7 separate regions of the Homo sapiens genome follow, and all the other regions are reported to be linked to region 1. Evidence: microRNA targets listed by miRTarBase, many of them from high-throughput screens and not tested one by one. Region 1 holds a microRNA gene; each other region holds the end of a gene's coding sequence.

Evidence for each region. Region 1 holds the annotated microRNA hsa-miR-130b-5p (ACUCUUUCCCUGUUGCACUAC, at 2,633-2,653, shown strand). A microRNA usually pairs through its seed, bases 2 to 8, with sites in the 3' UTR of a target mRNA and lowers its output. Matches are read on the target gene's strand: a 7mer-m8 pairs with bases 2 to 8, a 7mer-A1 pairs with bases 2 to 7 and ends in A, and an 8mer does both.
Region 2: the mRNA of N4BP2 is a reported target of hsa-miR-130b-5p. Seed matches in the 3' UTR shown: 7mer-A1 at 2,413-2,419.
Region 3: miRTarBase lists ZNF283 as a target of hsa-miR-130b-5p. Seed matches in the 3' UTR shown: 7mer-A1 at 739-745 and 7mer-A1 at 266-272.
Region 4: the mRNA of CDK12 is a reported target of hsa-miR-130b-5p. Seed matches in the 3' UTR shown: 7mer-A1 at 1,067-1,073, 7mer-A1 at 1,800-1,806, 7mer-A1 at 1,994-2,000 and 8mer at 2,533-2,540.
Region 5: the mRNA of FRMD6 is a reported target of hsa-miR-130b-5p. Seed matches in the 3' UTR shown: 7mer-m8 at 3,267-3,273.
Region 6: miRTarBase lists FBXO9 as a target of hsa-miR-130b-5p. Seed matches in the 3' UTR shown: 7mer-A1 at 2,790-2,796.
Region 7: miRTarBase lists KIN as a target of hsa-miR-130b-5p. The part of its 3' UTR that is shown has no 7-base or 8-base seed match.

What each region holds. Positions count from the first base shown.
Region 1 is chr22:21,650,684-21,654,752 of GRCh38, forward strand. MIR130B (microRNA 130b) reads left to right here and starts at 2,621; the gene lies at 2,621-2,702. It overlaps MIR301B (microRNA 301b), which reads left to right and starts at 2,298; the gene lies at 2,298-2,375. It also overlaps the pseudogene LOC107985532. RefSeq lists enhancers at 1,083-1,753, 1,754-2,425, 1,962-2,011.
Region 2 is chr4:40,153,766-40,157,834 of GRCh38, reverse strand. It overlaps N4BP2 (NEDD4 binding protein 2), which reads right to left. Exons shown (of 18, transcript NM_018177.6): 18 at 1-3,643. The coding sequence ends at 3,598. Among named protein-coding and RNA genes, the nearest start is that of RHOH, 41 kb to the left of the region's middle.
Region 3 is chr19:43,848,084-43,852,152 of GRCh38, reverse strand. ZNF283 (zinc finger protein 283) reads right to left here. Exons shown (of 7, transcript NM_181845.2): 7 at 136-4,069. The coding sequence ends at 3,512. Among named protein-coding and RNA genes, the nearest start is that of ZNF283, 23 kb to the right of the region's middle.
Region 4 is chr17:39,530,708-39,534,776 of GRCh38, forward strand. CDK12 (cyclin dependent kinase 12) reads left to right here. Exons shown (of 14, transcript NM_016507.4): 14 at 1-3,837. The coding sequence ends at 609. Among named protein-coding and RNA genes, the nearest start is that of CDK12, 71 kb to the left of the region's middle.
Region 5 is chr14:51,727,661-51,731,729 of GRCh38, reverse strand. FRMD6 (FERM domain containing 6) reads right to left here. Exons shown (of 14, transcript NM_001267046.2): 14 at 1,003-3,985. The coding sequence ends at 3,701. Among named protein-coding and RNA genes, the nearest start is that of FRMD6, 78 kb to the right of the region's middle.
Region 6 is chr6:53,096,965-53,101,033 of GRCh38, forward strand. It overlaps FBXO9 (F-box protein 9), which reads left to right. Exons shown (of 13, transcript NM_033480.3): 13 at 758-3,909. The coding sequence ends at 866. Among named protein-coding and RNA genes, the nearest start is that of FBXO9, 34 kb to the left of the region's middle.
Region 7 is chr10:7,752,756-7,756,816 of GRCh38, forward strand. It overlaps KIN (Kin17 DNA and RNA binding protein), which reads right to left. Exons shown (of 13, transcript NM_012311.4): 13 at 1-3,387. The coding sequence ends at 3,325. Among named protein-coding and RNA genes, the nearest start is that of KIN, 33 kb to the right of the region's middle.

The DNA.
Region 1 (4,069 bases):
CTGGCTAATTTTTGTATTTTTAGTAGAGACAGCGTTTCACCATGTTGGCCAGGCTGGGAAACTGCCACTTTTAAAACCATCAGATCTTGTGAGAACTCCTTCACTATTACGAGAACAGCATGGGGGAAAGTGCCCCCATGATCCAATCACCTCCCACCAGGTCCCTCCCTTGACACTTGGGGATTACAATTCTAGATGAGATTAGGCTGGGGACACAGAGCCAAACCATATCACCCTGCAAATCCAAGGGGGCACTCCTCTGGTCCAGCCCCAGCTCCTATGGGCTGTCAAAGCCCACTCCTCCCTCTCTGTCTATTCCCCCACCTCCGTTACCACACATAGGTAAGCAGTGAGGTGAGGAGTGTTGACCAAGAGGAACCCAACAGTGCACAAGTGGGAATCCCTGGGCAACCAAAGCCCATGCTGTGGGAGCAGATAAGATTGTTCCAGGCAGAATGCAGGACAAGGCCAAAAATAAAAACTGTAGTGGCAGCAGAACTCACTTTCAGTGAACACTTACTAAATGCCAGGTGCTGGGCCAACAATTTACACAGCATCTCATTTGCTGCTGGCAACAGCCAGCCCTATGGGGCAGGTTTGATTGCCATCTCAATTTTGCAAGAAGGCAACAGGGGTTCATAAAGATTCAAAACCACCTCTGCCTGCCTCAAAAACATTTGCTCTCAGCCATTGGACCGATAATAAAGCAGGAGGGGTTGCAGGGGCACAGTTGTCTAAGCACAGCTCCTCCCTTCCCTCTAGGAGCCGTTCAACAGCCCGGTGATCAATATACTTCCTAGTCATCAGCGAAGGGTAGGCGCTTAATGAATGCTTCTCCGCAAAGTGGATCACAATCACGAAGAAACCAAAGCTTACACTTCCGTTCCCCATATCTCCCACAGATCCAAAAGACCACGGGGCCCAGGACCCGGTCTCCATAGCCCAGCCATACCCGGGGGTTTTCAGGAAAGCCTCACTCGCGTCCTGCCGGGCGATCCGGGGTGGTTGAGTTGGGAGGGGGGCTACCCCAGTTTGTAAGCCCACCACGTCCAAATATCCCATCCAGGAGGCGCAGAGAGCAACCTCAGCATGCATAACAAAGCAGCCCGCGGCCGCGTTCACAGCAGGCTTGGCGGGGGTTCGGGAATTTCCACAGGGTCTCGGCCTCCCCCACTGTGGGCTCGCGCCTGGCGCCCCTCACCGGGCTTCCAAGCGCTCTTGTCGGTGTCGCTAGAAAACTCGCAGAGATTGGAGCTGAGAAAAGGCGGGCAAAGTTCCTTTTGATAAGTTATGAATGGGGAAAAAGTGTTTGTAGAACTCATTGTTAAAACCACGGAGCCCGAGACTCGGCCGGCGCCGGGCCAATCGGAACCCGGAGGCTATTTTGAAATCTCTCCCGTCTCAGCCAACAGGCATGCAGGAGGCGAATCCCCGCGCCAGCGCCGGCCAATGAGCGCAGCGCTATGCTAAGGAGTCGGGGGCCCGGCCCCTCCGACTGTCAGCGGGTTAAAGATGGAGCCGGCAGGCGAGGGGCCGCCACGAGGTGCAGGGTCGTCTGGACGGGGACCCGGGGGCAGACGATGGCCGGGATCCTCTTCCGTCTAACCCTCCGCGTCCTGACCGGGCCCTGGGCGGAAGGGATGTCTGCGTGAGTCAGCTGTGTCTGAGGAGGGGATCCTGGGCTGGGCTGGGCGGCCCTACTCGGCGGGTCAGGCGGAGGGGCGCGGCCGGGATCCCGGGGGCCCTCTTTGGAGCAGGGAACTCTAGAAGGGCGGGGAGCCCCCATCCTCTGCTCCACTCTGGGCCTCCAGGCAGAAGAATATGTTAGAAAAGAATCCAGAGTGTATCTAGTGCAGGGCAAGGGGCCAGGGATGGAGTCGTCAGCTAGAAGGGGCGCGTCGTCCCGGGGTGGGGCCGCCCTTTTTCTCCTGGAGCCGCGGGCCGAGTCAGGGCGCAGGGTCGTCGGGCTGTACCCACCCCGCTCCGGGCGCTAGCCGGCTTTGGACTGCGGCTGAGTGCGGGTTCGTCTTTGTGTGTGCGCCCCCTCCCCTGCGTGGCCCGTCAGCTCCTGCTCCGGGATTGGAACAACCCCCTAGTCTGGGGTTTCTCCTCCACCTCAATCCGGAGCGTTCTGGGAAAGGCCTGGGTGTCCTGGGTTCTGAAGACCCCAGGGACGCACCCCGCTGCGGTCTCCTTCCCTGCCCGGATGGACTGGACGGGGGCTCTGCCCCACCCACCCATCCATGGTTGAGCTTCCCGCCCTGCGTGTATTGGGGGTGGTGGGGTCCCCCCTGCTGGCCGCAGGTGCTCTGACGAGGTTGCACTACTGTGCTCTGAGAAGCAGTGCAATGATATTGTCAAAGCATCTGGGACCAGCCTTGGGGATCTCCCTCCCTATAACCCTCACCTCCCACTCCCCAGGCAGGGCCCCTTGGGCTTGCAGGCCCTCCCCTCCCCCCTACCCAATTCGCTCCCTTCTCCATGGAAACTTGAGATTCTAGACAGGCCTGGGCCTCTGGGGTCAGAGGGCACCCTTTCCCCCCGGGCAGAGGCCCCGCCCCAGCCAGCCTGCATTCCAGGTCTCAGATCCCTGCAGACCACCCTGGGGGAGGCACTGGCAGGCCTGCCCGACACTCTTTCCCTGTTGCACTACTATAGGCCGCTGGGAAGCAGTGCAATGATGAAAGGGCATCGGTCAGGTCCAGCCTGCTACCCTGGGAGGGGGAAAGGGAGCTTGCTGCCTCACTCCACTTTCCAGTTGAGAAGGTTGAGGTGCCCAGAGGGTAAGTGTTTCCACTGATTAGGCACAGATGTGAAGCTGGACTGGACCCTCCATCAGAGGATCAGGTGGGTGCAGAGCTGGAGAATCATCCCTAAACTCTCCATCCTGTCATGGCTGGACAGGTGCAGGAGCAGACCTCCCCAGCTTCTGAAAAGCTCTTGTTTGAAGGTCTTTCCACATTGGGTCCCTGGGGTAAGACTGGAACTCCAGGCCTGGTCAGGGTCTTAGGGGAAATACACGCCCAGTCTTTTGCATGGAAGATCATTCTAGGCCTGGCTTGGGCCCAGTCCTTGCTGGAAGCTTGAACAGGGCCAGGCTCTGGAGAGAATGTTCTTCTGGGTGGCAGTTGGGTAAGGGGGTAAGGCAGGCCTTTCAGGAGGCAGCCTTCACCCCAGGACGTCAGCTGGAGTGGTACTATGGACTGACCAGTTGACTGATCAGTTGAGTGGACTCAGCTGGAGTGGTACTATGTGAGATGGATGGGTGGACTTGGGATACAAAGCCTGCAAATGATGTCTACCAACCATGCCAGTTTGTTCTCTTACAGAGAGGTGTGCCCTGAACCTGCAGGAGGGACTGAGGTGTCTAACATTCCAACCGTCCCAGCTGGAATACAGGGTTGGAGCTGAACTTCCAAGGAGCCTGACCCCAGGCATGCTTGGATGACCACCTCTACCATCAAGACCTGACACGGTGCAAAAGGTTTCTACGTGCCCAGTCACAGTCATTCAAATCTTCTTTAGAGGAGGACTAGGTTTCCAGATGGGCTTTTGGGAGTTCCCCTCATCCCTAGCTGGGCGCATTGGGAAACTGCTTTACCCCTACCCTGGGGAGAGAAGCCCTGGCACCCGTGGGAGGAACAGGGGCAATGACACATGCTCCTTGGCTTCCTAGTCCTGATCCCTTGGGGTTCCTTGATCCTAGGGTCATCTGACTTAGATCCATCCTCCCTTCCTCTAGGCACCAGGGGCCATGGCTGGAGGTGGCCACCCCTCAGTCCTGTACAGATTCTGTACCCACTGGCTGGAGACCCCCATGCAGCTGTCTCCTGCTCTTGCTGCGGGGAGACTGAACTCAGGGCTCTGCTCACTGGCTCCCTCCCAATGGAAGCCTTCTCTGGGCTTCACAGCATTGAATATTCCTCCAGAACAGCTTGTTAAATCAAATTTTTTTTTTTTTAGATGGAGTCTTGCTCTGTCGCCCAGGCTGGAGTGCAGTGGCACGATCTTGGCTCACTGCAAACTCCGCCTCCCGGGTTTAAGCGATTCTCCTGCCTCGGCCTCCCGA
Region 2 (4,069 bases), not on the chromosome of region 1:
AAACTTGAATTACATTTTAAAAATAAGCACCATGAACATACATTCTACATAAACTTATTTTACCTTTTAAATGACACCTTTTGGCCACATAAACATTTAAATCTGTTTTCTTTACATGTAAATAAAAATTGAGCAATATTTAACTACTACACCGAAAAATTACCAAACTTCACCTCATTGCACAATGGAAAAGCACTTAGAAAAAGCACTTGGAAAAAACAGCACACGTTATTTTTGTCTTTTTTATACATTTCGTCATTTTCTTAAATTGAGAGCAGTTAAAACATTGTCAGAGCAATTTCCTGAGTTTCCAAAGTTTCCAATTTCCAGCTCAGAAATAACCGATCTCAATATTATACATGTCTACTTTCTAAGCATACAAAACACTTGAATTCAAAAAGAAAAGACCTAAATAAAGGATGGAAACCATCCAGAAGAGCAGTATAGCTTTTCTTCTCAAAATATACTACTCAAGAGGATTTAAAGTCAAAATTTCTGCTATATAATATGTCCTATATTTAAAGGCCATAAAGTTGCAAATAGTATGGAAATACTAACCAATTGAAGAAACTGCACATTAAAAATAATGTAGAGAAATATGAAGAGCCAATAAACGTAAAAAAAAAAACACTTCCATTTCTCACATTGGAATAAAGAGATGGACAGACTGAAAATACTGTTAAGTGTCTAATATCTCCCTGGTCCAACTGGACACCCTCTGGGGTTTCCACATTAGTCCTCTTTTTCCATCTGGGAGATAATGGTAAGAGACTACTGAATGAATATAATTATTACTGAAACCTTCCATACTACAGAAGTGCTGTACTTTTAAAATATTAAGTTTACAAAGAATCATTCTAATGAGTCATGTATTAGCACAAATATACAGGTTGAGTGAGTATCCCCTACTCAAAATGCTTAGGACCAGAAGTGTTTTGGATTGCTGGGGTTTGGGGGGATATTTTAGAACATGTGCATTATATTTACTTGTTGAGTATCGCTAACCTACAAATGTAAAATGCTCTGTGAGTATTTCCTTTGAGCATCATGTCTGTGCTCGAAAAATTTCAGATTTTGAAGCATTTCAGATTTTGAATTTTCTCATTAGGGATACTCAACCTACACCAATACATGAAAATTTTTATAATCTCCAAACTATCTTTGACATACAGGATTTAGAAATGGGTAATAGAGAAAACTTTTAAAATCCCCAAACTATCTTTACTGCGGGCATACAGGATTTAGAAATGGGCAAAAAAAAGAAAGGAGGGATTACAAACTTTTCTTTCAAAATTATGTGTTGCTTAAACTATGCTAGATAGTGGGGTGGGAGGCAATTTGGAATTAAGCAGCTTCATAAAAATACATATGATGCTCAAACTTTGCCTGTATATTTATCAACAATGATTAAGATATACTATTTGATTTATCAAAATAAGGCATAATATTAACATTGATATAGTAAACAAGTAAACAATATAGCTTTTTTCATTTGACTTCTGCCCACGGAATACCACACCTCTACTTCTGACTGCTCCTTCATTAATCATAATTATAATATTGAAATAAGTCTAGCTGAAGTGCCGAAAAGTGATGATTTTTAAAACTAGGTAAGGAAATATAAAAACACAGAAAGTGAGTATGCAGCTGCACACATTCCAATTAACTCCACATTTTAGCACTGTTTTTCATACCCTTAAATCATACTAATGTATACATAGGAATATCTTATTTCATTAACAATTATAGTTTCATAGTAAGTTGTTTAAAGGAACTGCTTTATTTTTAATGTTTATTTTTAATGTATAGAACTGTTCTAGAGATTACAAAAGTGTGCTAAACTGTTGGCATTCTTTAAATAAATTATTACAAACATAAGTGTGAATAATACTTCAATACCAGTCACTAACCATTTCTAAATAATAAACATGTATTTTCATTTTTATGGAACTAAAATTCAATGATAAGCCTCCTTATTTTAAAAGCATGCAATCATGATATATAAAAAAAATGTTTTGGGGTTTTATTTTCATTGAAATGTCTGCTCTTTTGGAAAACCATTCTGTACTTTAGGATTCTTTTGGTACCAGCTCAATCCTATAATTTCTGATCCAAATTTTTTTTTAAGCTTAACAAAAAGCAACAAAACTATTTGTTAAAATTATGTATGTTGAAAATATTCTCCATCTCCAAAGGCAAATTTAAGCCATTGTCTCATATTGGAAAATTATACCTTACCACATTATAACCTCCTTTACACAGGTTTAACTTGCATACTAACAGAATTTATTAGCTAACCAAACAACAGAAGTTAATGACAGCTTCCTTTGAGAAAGTTGGCTCTTTTTCAAAATAAAAGTGAAAATATTTTAAATTGTAAGGATTCTTCTTATGATTATAACCAAAATATTTTCTCTTTTTTTTCTTTTTTTTTTTTGGAGACGGAGTCTTGCTCTGTCACCCAGGCTGAGTGCAGTGGTGTGATCTCGATCTCGGGTCACTGCAACCTCCACCTCCCAGGTTTAAGCGGTTCTCCTGCCTCAGCCTCCCAAGTAGCTGGGATTACAGGCACACGCCACCACACCCAGCTAATTTTTGTATTTTTAATAGAGACGGGGATTCACCATGTTGGCCAGGCTGGTCTTGAACTTCTGACCTCAGGCGATCCACCTACCTCGGCCTCCCAAAGTGCTGGGATTACAGGCGTGGGCCACCACACCAGGCCAATTATAAACAAAATATTTTCTATATTTGTTTAATAGAATTTTAACCTACTGCAGTTTTAAAATTACATGCCTCAAAAATAAAATATAAGTATTTAGTACTGTCTGAAATACGACTTATACAGACAGTTCTAGAAGCATTTCGATAAGGCAGCAACATCTGGAAGATATTTAACCATTTCTTTTTCTCTGAAAACCTTTCTGTCTATAGAAAGTATAAAATTACAATATAATCTCAGACCCAACTTTCTTTCCATAAAATGCACACAGAAGAACAGAACAAAAGGTAAAAGATCAAGGTCATATACAAAGCAGAAGAAAGGGCAAAAGCATGTCTTCCTTCCTGTAGGATATGGCAAAATAAAAGCATTTTATGTGTTTAGTTTTGAAAATAAAAAATATTCAAGTGTTTTTGTTAGATCTCCTTTTTTTCTTTACTACCACTACTATGTCCTTTTTCCTCTTTTAATACCACCCTTTGGGGGGCATGAATCAGGTCTCAAAGCACTTTAAATACCTCTCACAAAAGACTTTTAGGACATTACTAAATGTCATACAACAATTAATACAAAGGTAACCTTTTCTGAGAAACAATCAGAGCATTTTAAACTTTAAAACTGTAGCTGATAATTTTCTTACATATTTTGTAATCAATAAAATTTCTCTGTAATATCTTTAACAGGTAACATTTGCATTTGATTCAGTAAAAAATCAAACCTCACTTGCATTTTGAAAAACATCATAATTTTTTTGTTTCATAATTGAATATTATTTATAATAAAACACATCTTTAGGGTAGAATTGACTGAATTACTGCAAATAAAAGTAATTTTAACCTACAAACCTTCATACTTCTAATTCAAGGATGTTTATTTTACTTTAGCATGACTTTCAAGCACCCTGGTTTAATTTCAGAGAACCTGCAGAAATGAGAAAAGAGTTATTTTAAAGATGAAAATTTCAAATTAGCTAAGGAATATACCTTGTAATCAATTCCAAGTACCTACGCTTAATATAATATTTACTACCAAAGTATTGACCCTTATTAAGTCAATATCCAAGACCAACATCTAGGTTTGTGTTCCTTTTATCTACGGTCAAAACAAATACAATCTTAAAGCTGGAGGTTGCTCTTGACTTAGTATAACTTAAGATTTGTCAAAACCTGTGAGGCCTGAATTTTACCTTTATGAAAAAGAGTATGCTGTAGGAAGAATAAAGTCCTTGGTGCATCATGAAAGCACCAAGAAGAAATCTCTGATATATCAGGTAAGTCTGATTAATCTGGCCATGCAATGCTTTCAACTCTATCCGGAGAGAATTTAAAGGAAGACTAGTCTCTAAAA
Region 3 (4,069 bases), not on the chromosome of region 1:
GCAAAATGAAATCAAGCAATGCATCAGAAGGATACTATGACTAACCTGGAATATCCAGGAATGGGAAAAAGTCAGTGAATCTATCAGAATAAATTATCACATGAACAAATTAAATACTATAGAAGTGCAGAAAAAGATAGTGAAACGGCATTTAATAAAACTCAGGAGGCACCACTACTTAGCTACAACAAAGATTTTCACTCATAACTGAGACCATGATGCTGCCATTCCATCATAGCTAACAACCAGACATGGTGACTGAAATTCTCTTTTGGTTATAGCAGCAGTTCCCAATGCAATTTCACCCACCTACAAAGATAATAGGTCATGGGAATAAGTATTTCAACAGTGAAGTTTGCCATACACCAGTTTAAACAAAGTTCAACCATTTTCTTCACTAGAATACTCCTTAGTCTTTTTTTATTTTTATTTTTTTGAGACGGAGTCTCGCTCTGTCGCCCAGGCTGGAGTGCAGTGGCGCAATCTCGGCTCACTGCAAGCTCTGCCTCCCGGGTTCACGCCATTCTCCTGCCTCAGCCTCCCCGAGTAGCTGGGACCACAGGCGCCCGCCACCACGCCCGGCTAATTTTTTCTATTTTTAGTAGAGACGGGGTTTCACCGTGTTAGCCAGGATGGTCTTGATCTCCTGACCTCGTGATCCGCCCGCCTCGGCTTCCCAAAGTTCTGGGATTACAGGCATGAGCCACCGCGCCCGGCCGTCTTTTTTTTTTTTTCACTTCTCTTTAGTCTTTTGATAAGCTGGTGAGGTGCTTTTGCTTGTTCCTTAGGAGGGGATTTAGTAGATGCTACTTTATAAGCTTCTTTAACTGTAAAATCCTCCTTCATTGTCAAGTACTAGTAAGCACTGGTGATTCCTTGAGATATAATTTCAGAAATGTTGGGATAAGGCACCATGTCTACATTTCTTGGTTAACAGGCAAATGTGGCACCCAGAGGGAGTGGCATAATAGCCAGTTACCAATAATATATCCTGTTAAAACTCCCAAAGTACTCTGCTTTGTGTTACAGTTGATTATTAAGAGTGCAACTGTTGGCTTTTTATGCCTTTGAAAAAGTGCAATCATGTAGAATGATGATCACTAGATGGTGAATGACTGACTGAACAGTGATATTACGAATCCCCTATGTGCACAAAATAGAGAGGTCAGGTGTAGACCTATGACAAGGAACCACAGACATTTAGTTATCAATGCATTAGTTCTGATGGAACTGACATTATTTTCAAAAAGAAATAATTTTTAAAAGGGTCGATTTCTAACTGTGTGAGTATATAAACACACACTCTATTTCTTCATAACTAACCTGCCTTGATGCTAGCACTAAATCATGACAGGCACCTGGTTGAAAGTGGTTGCAAGAAGCCATCAATTTTAAGATGCATTGTGATTTCCAAATAGTAAAATATAGCCAGGCGCAGTGTCTCACACCTGTAATCCCAACACTTTGGGAGGCTGAGGCAGGTGCAGGAGTTCAAGATCAGCCTGGACCAACATGGCAAAACCCCATCTCTACTAAAAATACAAGAATTAGCCAGTATGGTGGTGCACACCTGTGTATCCAGCTACTTGGGAGGCTGAGGCACGAGAATCACTTGAACCCGAGAGGTGCAGGTTGCAGTGAGCCGAAATCACACCACTGCACTCCAGCCTTGGTGACAGAAAGAGAGATCCTGTCCCAAAAAAAAAAAAAAGTAAAATACATACCATATGATCACACATTTCCAAAGATCATTGATCAAGGCTGACCAATCCTATTAGGTATATAATGGATCTTTATAACAGACAACTCCAGTAGTTACCATAAGTGATCAAACTTGGCACTGGTGATACTGGGGGAAATGGATACTATCTGCTTCTGAGGTATTGCAAGATGAAGTACACATCACCATCTATGAAGTGTTCTGGTAAAAAATGTTTAAGCCTCTATTTCCAACTTCATGTTACGAGAAATGTGAAGGAGAGGCCCATATCAAATTTCACCATGAGGAATGAAACTAATGTGTGACATTCTATAAAACAGCTTTCCTAAACTCTTCAAAAGTCTGGATTTTTTCAAGTCTCATTTTTTTAGCTCAGCTTAAGGGATAAACTCTGAATTAAAATCCCCTCAAATTCTTTATACTGTACTAGATCTTATCCAGAATGAACTATCTGAAATTCAAATGGATGAGTGGTTATGGGAAGCTTTTCTGAATTCATTCCTCAAAACGGTTGTGCCTCTCCTAAGAATTCACCAGTAGTAATACTAATAATAAAGACAATATGAACAATAGCTAATATGTATTAAGCATAGGCTACATACCAGATACTCTTCCAAGGATATGATGCATACTAAATCCATCTAATCTCTGTAACAGCATTATTAGTTACCATCAGCATTTGAAACATCATGTCCAGAAGAGATAAGCATTTTGCTCACCATCCTACAGGTAGTATGGAGGTGAAATGGTGATGACAGTATGGTATTTGCCATGGATAAGGGTTTTCCTACATTTGTTACATTAACAGAGTTACTCTCTAGGATGAACTTACTGAAGTTTAACAAAGACTGAATAGTGTTGGAAGGCTTCTGCACATTTAACATATCTGGTATAAATTATCTTATGCTGTTACAGGCATTAGAAAATTTTGATTCCCTCATTTGCCAAATCTTGCTATAGTATGAATATTCTGCTATTCTAATCAGAGAGGTGCAAGTGAAGAATTTCTTATTTAAATTGTCACTTGTCTCATGTCTTGAAAAGTGTGAGTCTTGTCTCAAATTATTTCTGGGAAAGAACAAACTTTGTTTTCAATTCTCAATCATTTATGGACTGATAATTTTGTAAAACAGAATGTTATGGAAATGTCAAATTGCTATAAAAGTTCCAAATATTTACTCACTTTCCACGTTTATCTCACAATTGACAGATGACAATTTTATGACTGCACCAGTCTCTGGATAATAATTTGGGTAGCATTTGTCTAAAGGCCTTCCTATAATTCTAATTCAAATGATTTCTCATTTGGATGAATTCTCTGATGTACTCTAAGATATTTACTGTGTCTATAAGCCTTCCCAAATTCCTTATGTGCATAGGATTACACAGCAGTATGAATTCTCTGATGTGCAGCAAGAACTGAATTAAGTTTAGGTCCTTCCCACATTCCTCCTATTTAAACTCTTTTTAACAAATACCAATTATTTGATGTTAATCAGACCTTATGTCATGAATGAAGATCTTCACACATTCCTTACATTTAAATGATTTTACATCAGTATAAATTGATATCCAATAAGACTGTACAGAAGTCTAAAGGCCTTTTCATATTAATTATATTCAAAATATTTCTCACTAGTATGAATTGCTGGATAGCAAGATAATTGCCCATAAACAGAAATGAATGGCTTTTGCACAACCCTTACATTCACAAGGTTTCTCAAGAGTAAGAGTTCTTATTATGATAAGTTGTCTATACACACACACAAAATATTCTTTTACAACTTTCAATCATAAGGTTTCATCAGTATCAATTTTCTCATTTGAGTAAGTTGTCCACAGAAAGGCTTCCCCACATTCGTTATATTTGTAGGGTTTATCATTACTATGAGTTCTCTCATGAACAAGTTTTGAGCCACAAGTAAAGGTCTTCCCGAATTCCTTACGTTGATAAAGCTTCTCACCAGTATGAAATCTCTGATGAACACTAAGTTGATAGCCACTACCAAAGGCCTTCCCACAGTCTTTACATTCATAAGACTTCTCATTAGTATGGACTCTCTCATGCTTAACTAGGCTTGAACCCCAACTGAAGGCCTTCCCACATTCCTTACATTTGAAAGGTTTCTCACCGGTATGAATTTTCTGATGTTGAGTAAGGTGATAGCCACGACTAAAAGCCTTCCCACATTCTTTACATTCATAGGGTTTCTCCCCTGTATGGATTCTTTCATGTTGAACAAGGCTTGATCCACAATTAAAAGCCTTCCCACATTCCTTACATTCATAGGGTTTCTCACCAGTGTGAAATACCTGATGTCGAGTAAGTTGATACCCACTACAAAAGGT
Region 4 (4,069 bases), not on the chromosome of region 1:
GCCCCCCAGGAGTTGAACCCAGCCGTGACAGCCGCCTTGCTGCAACTTTTATCCCAGCCTGAAGCAGAGCCTCCTGGCCACCTGCCACATGAGCACCAGGCCTTGAGACCAATGGAGTACTCCACCCGACCCCGTCCAAACAGGACTTATGGAAACACTGATGGGCCTGAAACAGGGTTCAGTGCCATTGACACTGATGAACGAAACTCTGGTCCAGCCTTGACAGAATCCTTGGTCCAGACCCTGGTGAAGAACAGGACCTTCTCAGGCTCTCTGAGCCACCTTGGGGAGTCCAGCAGTTACCAGGGCACAGGGTCAGTGCAGTTTCCAGGGGACCAGGACCTCCGTTTTGCCAGGGTCCCCTTAGCGTTACACCCGGTGGTCGGGCAACCATTCCTGAAGGCTGAGGGAAGCAGCAATTCTGTGGTACATGCAGAGACCAAATTGCAAAACTATGGGGAGCTGGGGCCAGGAACCACTGGGGCCAGCAGCTCAGGAGCAGGCCTTCACTGGGGGGGCCCAACTCAGTCTTCTGCTTATGGAAAACTCTATCGGGGGCCTACAAGAGTCCCACCAAGAGGGGGAAGAGGGAGAGGAGTTCCTTACTAACCCAGAGACTTCAGTGTCCTGAAAGATTCCTTTCCTATCCATCCTTCCATCCAGTTCTCTGAATCTTTAATGAAATCATTTGCCAGAGCGAGGTAATCATCTGCATTTGGCTACTGCAAAGCTGTCCGTTGTATTCCTTGCTCACTTGCTACTAGCAGGCGACTTACGAAATAATGATGTTGGCACCAGTTCCCCCTGGATGGGCTATAGCCAGAACATTTACTTCAACTCTACCTTAGTAGATACAAGTAGAGAATATGGAGAGGATCATTACATTGAAAAGTAAATGTTTTATTAGTTCATTGCCTGCACTTACTGATCGGAAGAGAGAAAGAACAGTTTCAGTATTGAGATGGCTCAGGAGAGGCTCTTTGATTTTTAAAGTTTTGGGGTGGGGGATTGTGTGTGGTTTCTTTCTTTTGAATTTTAATTTAGGTGTTTTGGGTTTTTTTCCTTTAAAGAGAATAGTGTTCACAAAATTTGAGCTGCTCTTTGGCTTTTGCTATAAGGGAAACAGAGTGGCCTGGCTGATTTGAATAAATGTTTCTTTCCTCTCCACCATCTCACATTTTGCTTTTAAGTGAACACTTTTTCCCCATTGAGCATCTTGAACATACTTTTTTTCCAAATAAATTACTCATCCTTAAAGTTTACTCCACTTTGACAAAAGATACGCCCTTCTCCCTGCACATAAAGCAGGTTGTAGAACGTGGCATTCTTGGGCAAGTAGGTAGACTTTACCCAGTCTCTTTCCTTTTTTGCTGATGTGTGCTCTCTCTCTCTCTTTCTCTCTCTCTCTCTCTCTCTCTCTCTCTCTCTCTCTCTCTGTCTCGCTTGCTCGCTCTCGCTGTTTCTCTCTCTTTGAGGCATTTGTTTGGAAAAAATCGTTGAGATGCCCAAGAACCTGGGATAATTCTTTACTTTTTTTGAAATAAAGGAAAGGAAATTCAGACTCTTACATTGTTCTCTGTAACTCTTCAATTCTAAAATGTTTTGTTTTTTAAACCATGTTCTGATGGGGAAGTTGATTTGTAAGTGTGGACAGCTTGGACATTGCTGCTGAGCTGTGGTTAGAGATGATGCCTCCATTCCTAGAGGGCTAATAACAGCATTTAGCATATTGTTTACACATATATTTTTATGTCAAAAAAAAAACAAAAACCTTTCAAACAGAGCATTGTGATATTGTCAAAGAGAAAAACAAATCCTGAAGATACATGGAAATGTAACCTAGTTTAGGGTGGGTATTTTTCTGAAGATACATCAATACCTGACCTTTTTTAAAAAAATAATTTTAAAACAGCATACTGTGAGGAAGAACAGTATTGACATACCCACATCCCAGCATGTGTACCCTGCCAGTTCTTTTAGGGATTTTTCCTCCAAAGAGATTTGGATTTGGTTTTGGTAAAAGGGGTTAAATTGTGCTTCCAGGCAAGAACTTTGCCTTATCATAAACAGGAAATGAAAAAGGGAAGGGCTGTCAGGATGGGATAATTTGGGAGGCTTCTCATTCTGGCTTCTATTTCTATGTGAGTACCAGCATATAGAGTGTTTTAAAAACAGATACATGTCATATAATTTATCTGCACAGACTTAGACCTTCAGGAAACATAGGTTAAGCCCCCTTTTACAAAGAAAAAGTAAACATACTTCAGCATCTTGGAGGGTAGTTTTCAAAACTCAAGTTTCATGTTTCAATGCCAAGTTCTTATTTTAAAAAATAAAATCTACTTATAAGAGAAAGGTGCATTACTTAAAAAAAAAAAACTTTAAAGAAATGAAAGAAGAACCCTCTTCAGATACTTACTTGAAGACTGTTTTCCCCTGTTAATGAGATATAGCTAGATATCGGTGTGTGTATTTCTTTATTATTCTCTGGTTTTTGATCTGGCCTTGCCTCCAGGGCCAAACACTGATTTAGAAAGAGAGCCTTCTAGCTATTTTGGCATTGATGGCTTTTTATACCAGTGTGTCCAGTTAGATTTACTAGGCTTACTGACATGCTATTGGTAAATCGCATTAAAGTTCATCTGAACCTTCTGTCTGTTGACTTCTTAGTCCTCAGACATGGGCCTTTGTGTTTTAGAATATTTGAATTTGAGTTATTGGGCCCCACTCCCTGTTTTTTATTAAAGAACGTGAGCCTGGGATACTTTCAGAAGTATCTGTTCAATGAAAAAAAGTTGGTTTCCCATCAAATATGAATAAAATTCTCTATATATTTCATTGTATTTTGGTTATCAGCAGTCATCAATAATGTTTTTCCCTCCCCTCTCCCACCTCTTATTTTTAATTATGCCAAATATCCTAAATAATATACTTAAGCCTCCATTCCCTCATCCCTACTAGGGAAGGGGGTGAGTGTATGTGTGAGTGTATGTGTATGTATGATCCCATCTCACCCCCACCCCCATTTTGGGAGTCTTTTAAAATGAAAACAAAGTTTGGTAGTTTTGACTATTTCTAAAAGCAGAGGAGAAAAAAAAACTTATTTAAATATCCTGGAATCTGTATGGAGGAAGAAAAGGTATTTGTTAATTTTTCAGTTACGTTATCTATAAACATGATGGAAGTAAAGGTTTGGCAGAATTTCACCTTGACTATTTGAAAATTACAGACCCAATTAATTCCATTCAAAAGTGGTTTTCGTTTTGTTTTAATTATTGTACAATGAGAGATATTGTCTATTAAATACATTATTTTGAACAGATGAGAAATCTGATTCTGTTCATGAGTGGGAGGCAAAACTGGTTTGACCGTGATCATTTTTGTGGTTTTGAAAACAAATATACTTGACCCAGTTTCCTTAGTTTTTTCTTCAACTGTCCATAGGAACGATAAGTATTTGAAAGCAACATCAAATCTATACGTTTAAAGCAGGGCAGTTAGCACAAATTTGCAAGTAGAACTTCTATTAGCTTATGCCATAGACATCACCCAACCACTTGTATGTGTGTGTGTATATATAATATGCATATATAGTTACCGTGCTAAAATGGTTACCAGCAGGTTTTGAGAGAGAATGCTGCATCAGAAAAGTGTCAGTTGCCACCTCATTCTCCCTGATTTAGGTTCCTGACACTGATTCCTTTCTCTCTCGTTTTTGACCCCCATTGGGTGTATCTTGTCTATGTACAGATATTTTGTAATATATTAAATTTTTTTCTTTCAGTTTATAAAAATGGAAAGTGGAGATTGGAAAATTAAATATTTCCTGTTACTATACCACTTTTGCTCCATTGCATTTACTTCTTAATCTGTACCCCCTGAGCATATCTAATCATGTATAAAGGACGTTTTTCCTCCACTTTATCTTAGGGGTTCTCTGTCTCAGAATCATTATAGACTCATTAACTCCCCCTCCCAGCAAAAGGTTATCAGGATTTGAAGAGGTGCTTGAAAACGCTAGACTAGGAACTAGAGAATAAATGAGTTGGGAAAAACCATGAAATGTGAT
Region 5 (4,069 bases), not on the chromosome of region 1:
TGGAGAAAAGTTTGGGTTTAAAACTCTGCTTTACCACTCACTAGCTGTAGAGTCGTGGGCAAGTTTAACTGTTTCCTCAGCTGTGAAATGCGAGTGACAGACAACTCCTTGAAGGGTTGTGAGGATTAGACACGGTGTTTGTACTATTAGATGCATAGTAGGTACCAAGTATTTTCTTTCCTGGACTCCAAATCACAATTTATCAGACACTGCAAAATTCGTAACACTTGACTAGAAAACTTGTTTTGGACCGTGTGAATCCAAATGGCTCTGTTTCACAAAAGTTAAATGTCAGATTTGACAGCCCTCCTTTTCCCACCTAGTCATCAGGGGCATACTCAACCATTACCTTATCTAATTCTCCAAACAGTCCTTTAAATTATTAACTCCATTTTTTGGCCAAGAGAAGTGGCGCAAAGAGAAGGTAATGGATTTCCCTTCAGAAAAAGAGCTGGGGCTTTTCGGAATGCTGTTGACTCTCAACTCTGGGCTCTTTCCTTAATGCCATGCTGCCCTCACGTTCAGCTTTGTGAATGCATGCTTTTAAATGCAACCATTTGTTTATTTTATAATTAAACCAACAGTCCAATGATGACGGTTTTCAGGTTTAAGTTACTTATTTTGGTTAAAATATTTCCTTTTAAAGGAGAGTTTTTTTCAGCTCCATAATTTGAACTCAACAGTGGCTGACTACCACAAACTCCTGGAAGCTTGATTCCTTCACATCTGCAACTAAGAATAATAATAGTACCTGCCTTCTGGGGATATGAGGATTAAATGACTGAACACATGAAATCTGAATACATGTGAAACTGGGTCTGGCACATGGTAGTACTCAGCATCAGTTATTACCATCGTCACCACCAGGACTGTTTTACTTGGAATTCTATCACATGGAACCTTGTTGTCCTTTACTGTGCTCCATTACAGCAAAGAACATGAAGAAAACACTGTCACTCCTTAATGCTTCTCGCTTGAGAGCTCTAATAATCAAAAAGGCAATTTAAAGGCAAAAAAGTAACTTTATTGACTGCTAATCTTACCATGAAATATCTATAAGAAATAATTACAAAATAATGCAGGTTTCTTTTTACATACTTTTGGTATCATCTTGATATGATGATCCTTTCACAGAAAGGATTATTTACAGTTTATGTAGATATAAAGCTCACTGTTGCATATACAAATGTAGATGTGCAGAGGCAATATATACCAAAACGGGTATACTGACAAGCGATAGATATGTAAGAAATGCAGAATAAATAACAGCTTTATATATTTCCTTTCCTTTTTATTTTTAAAAACAATTTCCAAATACAAAACATGGATTATTCAAAGTGGATTTTTCCTATACATATATATAATTCTGCTGCAAACAGTGGATCAAAAAGCAGAAGTGTTCTTAGCATGATTCATCTTTGAAAACCCATAGAACTATTCATAAATCCAATTAGAAAGAACATGTGCAAAACCACCAACAATGTCAGCAAAACCTCAAAGATCTGATTTTGGTTGAAGTAGAGAGAAAATAAACATAAAGCAGTACCTGTTTACAGTAATTAAATATGTTTTTTCTTTATCTTTCTTTCTTAAATATGTCTTTTTTTAAATGTTTGCAAGAAACTCTAAGGGCTAAGGAAATGCACTGCATTATGATCTGGGCTCCTTAGAGTACAAACCTCACCAGGCTTAAGCATCATCCATAAGAAATGGTGGATTACTTAATGACTTATAAGTAAAACAGTCATTAAATGATCCTTTCATACTTTAATCCTCTTATGCAGAGACTGAGATACTTCCATACATTCCAATATCTGCAACTTTGGTTCTATTAAAGTATTTGATAAAAGCAAAACAATTTTGTGACCACAGAACTCTATGGAACTTTTTTTCCTTTTAAAGTGTCAGGTGAACCTAGCGTGATAAGGCAATGTTGCCTACACATCCGCGACCCAGCACAGGAGGGACAGCACAGACAGGGCATGTTCCAGCTCACCATTTGTTGTATAATACTGACTCCCAGCCAGGGGTAACACTGCTTATGTTCCACTGTACCCTACATCTATTTCGTTACCTGAAAACATAATTTTGTATAAAAATATGATTGTTTCTTTAGAAAATAATATATAGTTTTTTTAATAAAACTGGGCAGATAGAAAAAAATGGTATATCAAAATATGGTAAACAAATGTTGTAAAATACTAAATCATTAAAAATATCTTATAGAAAGACATTGTGCTATGAAGTTCTCTCCTGAAGTGTGAACTACGTTTTTACTTTACATCAAAAGATTGATAAATTCACTCCCCTGACTTGGTTTCATTATATATTGTAACAGCAGCACAACAGGTAACTGTCTTAAAAATGGCCCTTTCTCATACACTACGTCTTCTGTACACTTTTACTTCAAAATTAACAAGACACCCCCAGGATCAGTGGTTTTCAACTTTGTTGCATATTAGCTCCATCTGGAGAACTTTAAAAGAAAAGGCAATTCTACTTGGGTCCCGCCACAAGAGAATGATGTAATCGGTCTGGTGGGAGACTCAGTCATTATTTTTTAAAAGCTCCCCCCAAAATTCTGTTATACAATCAGTGTTGAGAATCATGGCCAAAGGCACATGAGAAAACAGTCATTCTGAACTCTACATATATCAACTGACTGTCTGCAGGTATCATTCACTCAGTGACATATTCTCAATCTTAAGGAATTCCATGTATAAAAGATAGTCATGGAAGCCAAAATGAAGACATAGTAAGCTTTAAACACATATAGACATACACAATCCCATGTATTTATATATGTATAATATATACACAGAGTATTTTGGTTAAGCAGAAACTAGCATTGCCATAATTTGTTCTTGATAATTAAACAAATAAAGCATCACCAAGCACCAACGTTTTCTAAGACATTTTCCAAAGTTTTAACAGACACTGGTTTTGTAAACTCCACAAAATGCATTACAACATGAATATAATTCATCTGTTACTTGGATGTGGAACTCAAATGAATCCTGGAGCTTTCTGGAAGATCACAAAAGAGGACATGGCACTGAGCGGGATGAAGGAGTCACAGGCATCACAGCATGCACTTCTGGTTTTCTGCTTATTGCTTATGTGCTTCTGTCACATACGTATCTTTGGCTTGCTACAACCTTATGATTTTGACCACTCCATCAGTGTTCACTTTGGGACAGCCTCAGGGAGGAAGCAATGGGTATACAGAGCAATCATCTCTCTGTTAAAAGAAGAGAGAATCTTCCCTCTTTCCTCTCCCAAACTATGAGCATTTTATGTGGGAGTGGTAAAAAATTTATAAGCAAACAAATCTAACATCTTTCACGTGATAAAAAAATGTGATGTTACATGTAACTGAACTAAAAAGCATCAGATGAGCAAACACACCACACTCCAATATTCTGAAGGCTTTGCAATCAGTAAAGCGCATTTCCTTCTGAAGGATCAGTGAACTTCCGGGCACTTGTCTTGCTGTACATTTTCTGTAGTTCTTTTACTTCTGTGTAATACTTAAAGTGCAATTGTTCCAAGGCTTTTGTTTCCATCATCACAAATATTATAAAGAAAGAGCTATGTTTAGGGTGAAGAAGATATGGCACAAGTAATATGTAAAGAACTTATGACTTTCGCATCCTCTAGCAAACAGTAAGCTGCCTGTACAGCTGCACACAGACGGACTTTACACAACAAACTCTGGAACTTCATCATGAGTGAGATCCAGAGAAAAGTATTTGCTGGTTCTTTTGACTGGAAAAGCATCTTGGATGTTGATGCACTGCTGGGCCAAGCAACTGTTGCAATAGAGGCCTTCCTCATCCAGTTCATGGCCACATCCAAAGGTGTAACTCTGAGCAGTGTCCTGACACAGACCTGCAATGCGCAGGAAGTCTTTCTGGTAAAGTCTGATGTCATCGAGGCTCAAGCTGTGTCGATCAGTGGAGGTCTTTGGTTTCCGACATATAGTCTGCAAGATAAGGGAAGGATGAAACAACTTTAAAGTGAAAGGTTAGAATATTTGCCTTGTAAAGAGAGATGCTACAGAACCACA
Region 6 (4,069 bases), not on the chromosome of region 1:
TATAGTTTATACTTGACCCATTAGAAAAACATTGTTTATTTAGGAGAAAAAAGGACATTACCAGAGGCATTATTTGTAGCTGCTAATTATCACATTGACTTCCTTGTAATATTTATAAAATCACTTGAATTCTCTGCTTTCGTTTGTCTCTCTCAGTGGTAGCATAACTTACCACCTACTTTCCCTCCCCCCTGCCTATAATTATGCTGTTGATCATGCAATTATTAAATAATCAAATTATATTCTAGGAATATAGTTATTTCTGAAACATTTTAAGAAGAACCTAATGTCTATAGCTTCTGACTTAAAAATTCTATCTTAGGAATCTCTGAAGGACATCAAAATCACATAATTTTTAATTGAGAAATAGTAGACACAACCTAAATCTCCAATTAAGTAAACTGTGGTACAAGCAGACAGTGAAATATCATCCTGCCACTAAAAATGGTTTCTGAAAAATAATGATGTGGGAAAATACAAATAATTAAATGAAATAAAAAGAATTACTAAGTTTGATCTCAAGAAACACTAGAAAATATCCTTCATATGGCTCTGAGTGTTGGAATTGTGGTGATGTTTCTGTATACATTTCTAAATTTTTCGAGTTTTCTACAATATGCCTATATTATATAGAATTTCCTAAGATGAATTAAAAATAAAAAAGGCTAAAGCATAGAATAACCTTCCCCAAACACACAAGGATTTTAAATGAATTGAAATTTCCTCATACTAGTAATTTTGTGCTTTTTTTTTACAGATCAACTGGTGAGACTGCAGTCAGTGCTTTTGAGATTGACAAGATGTACACCCCCTTGTTCTTCGCCAGAGTAAGGAGCTACACAGCTTTCTCAGAAAGGCCTCTGTAGAGCCTCAAGTCCAGTCCTCTATCACTTTTGCATGAATTAAAGTATATAGCGCAAAAGAGCACCTAAGTTATAAATGTGTGTGTGTGCGTGTGTGTGTATATATATATATATATATATATATATATATATATATATATATATATATGGAATTGGAACTTATTTTAAATTGTTGGAGTTCTTTTAAGAAGAATATAAATTGATTATTTTTTTTATTTAAAGGGATAGTTGATTCCTGGGGTGTTTTGAAATTAAGTTGGAATTAAGTTGCTTAAGCATATTTATGTTGTGAGAAACCTTAATATGAGGTTTATCATGCCCTTTTTCAAGCAGATTTATGAGCAGATTTCTGTCACATAAGTCGTCTTCTGCTTGAGTATCCTAATATTTCAATGCATCAGGGGAGCGCTCCACTGGATAAGCATTTTATTTCCCGCATGGCATAATGTTTTTGCACTAAAGGCTCAAAGTGTGAGAACCTGTTCTGGATTTGTTTGAAATTATTTCACCAATAAAGATCATAAATAAATGTTTCTTTCAAGAAAATATATTTGGATGGCCTTTTTAAAGTAACAGGATATTTAATAAGAGTCCTAGATAGCCAGCGGAGACTTTAAGAATCATTGCCTCTAGCTGGGTGTGGTGGCATGCACCTGTAGTCCCAGCTATTTGGGAGGCTGATGCAGGAGAATAGCTTAAGCCCAGGAATTTGAGTCTGGGAGTTTGAGTCCAGCATGGGCAACATAACAAGACCCCATCCCTTATTAAAAGAAAAAAAAATAATTCCTCATTTCATCATTGGTCTTTATATGTAGCCACAAACACTGACCTCATGTAGGCACCTTACCAATATATGACATTAAGTGAGAGTGAATCCCTTAGGACTGGAACACTTCAAGCTCAACCAACTGACTCAGTTGTCATTCTTCACAAAAGAATAGTAGAGGATCATGTAAACCTGAGCCTAACTCTTGTTCCAGTATGAAAGTTGGGGGAGAGCACCAGCCACCTAGGAAAACTGTATGTTACCTTTTTACTCAAAGGAGTCCCCCCTGCCCAGTAACAGTCCTATTAGTGTTTAATTTCAGAGTTTGTGTCTGGTAGACCTCTACCTGATTCAGATTTGGTTTTGTTGTTTCAACCATAGTTAGAGACAAATTCTCATGTACTTTCAGAAATCAATATCTGCAGCCACTGTTACTTTTAATTGACATTAAGAGACACTTCATAGGTTCCCACAATTCAGTATGGGATAGGCTTTTTAAAAAGCACATACAGACCAGGCGTGGTGGCTCATGCCTATAATCCCAGCACTTTGGGAGGCTAAGACAGGCAGATCACCTGAGCTCAGGAGTCCAAGACCAGCCTGGGCAACATGGCAAAACACCGTCTCTACAAAAAAAAAAAAAAAAAAAATTAGCCAAGTACAGTGGGGCACACCTATAGTCGCAGCTACTTGGGAGGCTGGGGCAGGAGAATTGCCTGAGCCTGGGAAGTGGAAGTTGCAGTGAGCCAAGATCGTGCCATTCCACTCCAGCCTGAGCAACACAGTGAGACCCTATCTCAAAAAAATAATGATGATAGTACACGTTATGTTAAAGGTGAAATGTGCATACAGAAGGAAGAGAGTTGGCCAGGTGTGGTGACTCACACCTATAATCCCAATACTTTGGGAGGCCAAGGCAGGAGGATTGCTTGAGGTCAGGAGTTTTAGACCAGCCTGGACAACATAGCAAGACCTCATCTCTTCTAAAAATTAAAAAAAAAAAAAATAGGCATGGTGGTACACACCTGTGGTCCCAGCTAGTTGGGAGGCTAAGGCAGGAGGATCACTTAGCCAGGAGGCTGAGGCTACAGTGAGCCAAGATTGCACCACTGTGCTCCAGCCTGGGTGAGAAAGCGAGACCCTGTCTCAAAAAAGAAAAAAAAGAGAGGTTGGCCTTTTGTAGCAATCTGAGAAGTGTGTTTTTCAAGTTGGAAAGGAAGGAGAAAAGCAACTTGCCTAAGATAAGGTAGCTCTTCATGATATGACTGTTATTTCTGATATACAAATAAATAGAACATGATTAGGACATAGTCAAATATAGCTAGAAAAATATATTCCTAAGGAAAGTGAGATTTGAGGAGTCCCTGTTGTTCTGCAACATCCCTAGATTGAATGATCTGTTGCAGATGGTGGATACCAAGTTCAAATTTAAAGATTTCTTTGTAAGCAGTAAAGTGACTTTCACTTATTTAACTTAGAACTGGAAAAAGTAACTTTTTTCCAGATTACATTTTCTGTATATTTGTAAAATGCAAAAGCAATATATATTTGTTGTGAGAAAATTAGAATATACAGATAAAATAAAATTTAAAAAAACACCCAAAGATAACCAGAAGAAAATTTTTGCTATGTAACCTTTTTCTTCTGGTCTTTGCAAATCCTGCCGTAGAAACTTTTTAACTTCAGGAGTGTCCTTCCTTTGCTCTATTAGGACATTACAGAAACCAATACTATGAAAAGCTGACAGCAGTATCTGGATTAACTTTTTAAAAACAATGAAAGCATTTTACAGAAATTACATTTCAGATCGTGCTGGAACTGTGTTCAGAAGATATCCTCAGAGGGAATCTGGCCTGAGCACCATCATGTTTAATTGCCTCCTCCTGTCTTGCATTTTCCTCCCAGCCCCCTTCCTACCCCTTAGCAGAGGGCCAGGTGAGGGTGCTTGGGGCCCATGGGGGCTGGGAGTGTAGACTTCAGTTACACCCCCAGCCCCCAGGGGAAAGCATTAGCCTTGAATCCTCAATCCCAGGCCCTCTACTAACCACTCTCAACCTATGGTATTTATCTTTTGATTATTCTGTGCATCTATAAAAATGGGATTATATTGTACAGAATGCTTTGTAAGCTTTCTCTCCCCACATAAGAATGCCCTGTAAGCATTTTGTTAAATATTTTTAATGACTTTAGAGTCCAACTTTATACTCCTCTTTACGCATTTTGGTTTTCTAATTTAATGGTAGTGTAAACGTTTTTGGAATAAACATTCCTGTGGCTAAATCTTTGCATACTTCTTGTATTATTACTTTAAGATGTTTCTAAGAAGTAGAATGACTGAATCAAAGAGTGAACATTTTAAAATATCTTAAAATATACATTTGGTAAATAATGTATACACTGTAGAAAAACTGGAAAATAGATGAGCAGACAGAATAAAATG
Region 7 (4,061 bases), not on the chromosome of region 1:
AACCTAACCAAAACAACATGGAGGAACCTTACATGCATATGTTCTACCAGGTGAAAGAAGCCAATCTGAAAAAGCTACACCCTGTGTGACTCCAACTATATGACCTTCGATGGAGACAAAACTAGGGAGACAGTAAAAAGATCAGCGGTCAGCAGGGATTTGGGGGGAGACAGGGAACAGACAGAACACAGGAAACTTCTAGGGCAGTGAAACTGTTCTGTGTGATACTACAGTGGCAGATGCATGTCATTATACATTTGTCAAAACCCACAGAGACTGCTCTAAAAAGTAAAGTCTATGTTTGAAATAAAGAAAAATAGCTTATGATACTTCAAAAATCAAAGTCTAATATGAGACCTGTTGTTAGTTATCTGCAGTCATTTTGCTTAGCATAAACTCTATCAAGTTCTACAGACTCAGAGGGAAAAAACTACTGTGAAGTCTATAATCGTATTTTTATGCTTCAGATATTTTTTATTGAATTTAACCTCAAGTATGCTGCCTCATTTCATTCTGAAATAATTTCAGAAAGACGTTGGAGAATTAAATGTGGGAGGCAGACATGAAACATTTTTTCTCTGAAGAAAACCACCAAGTTGATTCCAAACGTACATACTTGGGGGAGGCATATGTAATTTGTCTGGTTTTACTCATCACTATTTGTTATCAGGGAGAACCATTCTCCTTTTTGAAATTCTTCAGACCAGATTCTTAGTAGTCCAGGCTCAACTTCTTGGCTTCATTTCTGGACATGACCACTCACTGCCATTTATTCAATACCTACTATGTGCTGGACTTCATGTCTGATGATTTATATGTATTTTCTGTAGGTCTCCCATCAACCCTGCTGAAAAACATTTTGACAATTTATACATTAAAAACATTGCAATTCAAGAACATTAACATTCTAATATTACAAAGCCAATGAACAGAACTGCCAGAATTTGATCTAAAGACTGCCCACACCCAAAACCCAGTTGCTTTCCATAATGTGCTGTCAGGTTACTTTGGAAAAACCTTAATTCATCCCTGAGGAACATTTTCTGTAAAGCTTCTGCCATCATCCTATTAGTATTTCTTTACTGCCTCTTACATTTCTGCTAACAGCATACGTTCTCCCATCTTCTGAGAATAGAAGCAATCAGCCCTCCCTGACTCTCAGTTAAAGAGAGAGATCCCAGGGTTTGGCACCATACCTGTGTCTGACGTCAGCTTATACCCATCCTCATGTTTGAAGTGATCATCCTGGTATGGTCTGTTTTTTGTTTGAACTCTTGTAGAAGATCAACTCAGGCAAGGCGTGGTAGCTCACACCTGTAATCACAACATTTTAGAAGGCCGAGGCAGGAGGATTGCTTGAGCTCAAGAGTTTGAGACCAGCCTGGGCAACATAGCAAGACCTCATCTCTACTAAAAATCAAAAAAATTAGCCAGGCATGGTAGTGCATGCCTGTAGTCCCAGCTACTCGGGAGGCTGAGGTGGGAGAATCAATGACCTAAGCCCAGGAGGACGAGGCTGCAGTGAGCCATGATTGTGCCACTGCACTCCAGGCTGGATGACAGAGCAAGACCCTATCTCAAAAAACAGAACAAAAAAAAAGAGGCGTAGTGGCTCATGCCTGTAATCCCAGCACTTTGGGAGGCTGAGGCGGGCAGATCATAAGGTCAAGAGATCGAGACCATCCTGGCCAACATGGTGAAACCTCATCTCTTCTAAAATTACAAAAATTAGCTGGGCGTGGTGGCGCATGCCTGTAGTCCCAGCTACTCAGGAGGCTGAGGCAGGAGAATGGCTTGAACCCGGGAGGTGGAGGTTGCAGTGAGCCGAGATTGCACTACTGCAATCAGCCTGGGTGACAGAGTGAGACTCTGTGTCAGAAAAAAAAAAAAAAAGAAAAAGAAAAGATAGATCATCTCTCTCTTCCCGGTGCTGCTGAAGGGTAAGATGTAAACCTAGAGTGCTCAAGAATGTAAATGTAGAGAGCCAGCACAGGAGCCAGAGACAGAGCGGAAGCCCAGGGAAGGCTGTTCACACCCGGTCCCGCTGCCCTGGAAGCTAGCGTCTGCTCCTTTCAGTCATGTGCACTACAAATATCCCTTCGTTTTTCCTTTGGCACAGGCAAATGTGGGTTTCCTGTCTTTTGCATTCCCTAATAATACACTGCCCTACTTATTTCAAACTGTATGGTTAGGCAGGGTGCTGTGGCTCACACCTGCAATCCTAGCACTTTGGGAGGCTGAGGCAGGAGGATCACTTGAGCCCAGGAGTTTGACAGCAGCCTGGGCAACACAGTGAGACCATGTCTCTAAAAGTAAAAAAATTAAAAACAAATAAAACTATAGTTCAACATTGCTGGTAGGACTGTAAAATGGTATAGCTGCTCTGGAAGAGTTTGGCAGAAGCGAAAGCTTCTGTTCACATAAAATCCTGTAAATGGGTGATCATGGCAGCATTATTCACAATAGCCAAAAAGTAGAAACAATCTAAATGTTTATCAGCTGATGAATGGACAAACAAAATACGGTACATCCATACAGTGGAATATTAAGCAGCCATAAAAACAAATGAAGCACGCCTACATGCTACTGCATGGATAAACCTTGAAAACATGATGCTAAGTGTAAGAAGCCAGTCATAAAAGATCACATATTATATGATTCCATTTATAAGAAATGTCCAGAAAGGGCAAATCCATAGAGACAGAAAGTACATTAGTGGCTGTCTAGGGCTAGGGCAGAGGGGAAAAATAGCGATTGACTATTAAAGGGTTTCATTTTGGGGTATGAAAGTGTTTTAAAATCAGACAGTGGTGATGGCTGCACAATTCTGCAAAAATACTAAAAACCACTGAATTGTATGTATATTTTAAATGAGTGAACTGTATGGTATATGAATTATTACCACAATAAAGCTGCTTCTATATTTATAGTTTGACATTTAAAATTTAGTCACACTTAGAGTTCAACTTTACTACTCTACTACTGAAAATATAGAGTGTATGAAGGATTTCCTCCAATTACATGATTCTAAATTGTCATAGATAAAACACTTTATAATAACATTCTTTAATGAAGATATAAACTCATCAAGTAAATTACAAAGGAAACAAAAATAACAAGGACAAAATTACATAGTTTGATACCTCATGAGACATAATTAAATTCTTCTCAAAGTTTAGCTGAACAACTATACAGTAATATTTTCAAAAACCTGTTTGTTTTATACAAAAGAATATACCCTAACACAGTAGAGTCTCATAATGCCTTGGCGAACACCAATTTGATGCTTTAAGATTTTAATGTATTGTTAACAAATTTTCAAACTCAGGCAAGTTTAGAAATGTCTTCATATTGAATTCCTTCAACTCTGCGTCCTTTTAAAGGGCCCTACAAATTAAAATAATTTAAAATAAGGTTAAAAACACATATTCCTAAAAGACAAAAAAATGACACCATACTTATGGATACAAATTTGCCTTTTCCGCATCCCTAAAATACCATTAAGATTGTTAACATTTGTATACATCTATGAATTTTAAGAATAATCTATGGCATTCTCATTAAGAACTACCATATTTTCTTCTGTGACATCTGACATACGTTATCAATAGACATTGTGGCAGAGACCTGCAAGCTGTTCAGTATCTCCTCTGCTTCCTGGATAAATAGCCAGTTTCCTGGCTCCCTTGTGGTTAGCTGTGGCCATGCATGGAGCTCCAGCCCATGAAAGCAAACAGAAGTGACGGTCCAGACGTGCTATAACTGACACACAATCTGCCAAGCTCCTTTTGCCTGCCCAGTGCACACAGACATGGCAACTGGAGATGCCACTTGAGGGCAGTAGAGGCACTAGCTGGAAGGACCCTGGGTTCACAAATCGCCACTTAGAAAGAGTTCCCTGATCAAAAATACCCATTTGGGGTTTTTAGAGTGAAACGTTAACTTCTACCATGTTTGTGCCATTGTCCATTTGGGGTTTTCTTTTTTTTATAGGAAATATCATTTTGTAAGCATTACGATACTCAAACATGTTTGTCTAGGTTGGCTGTGATAGTTACACT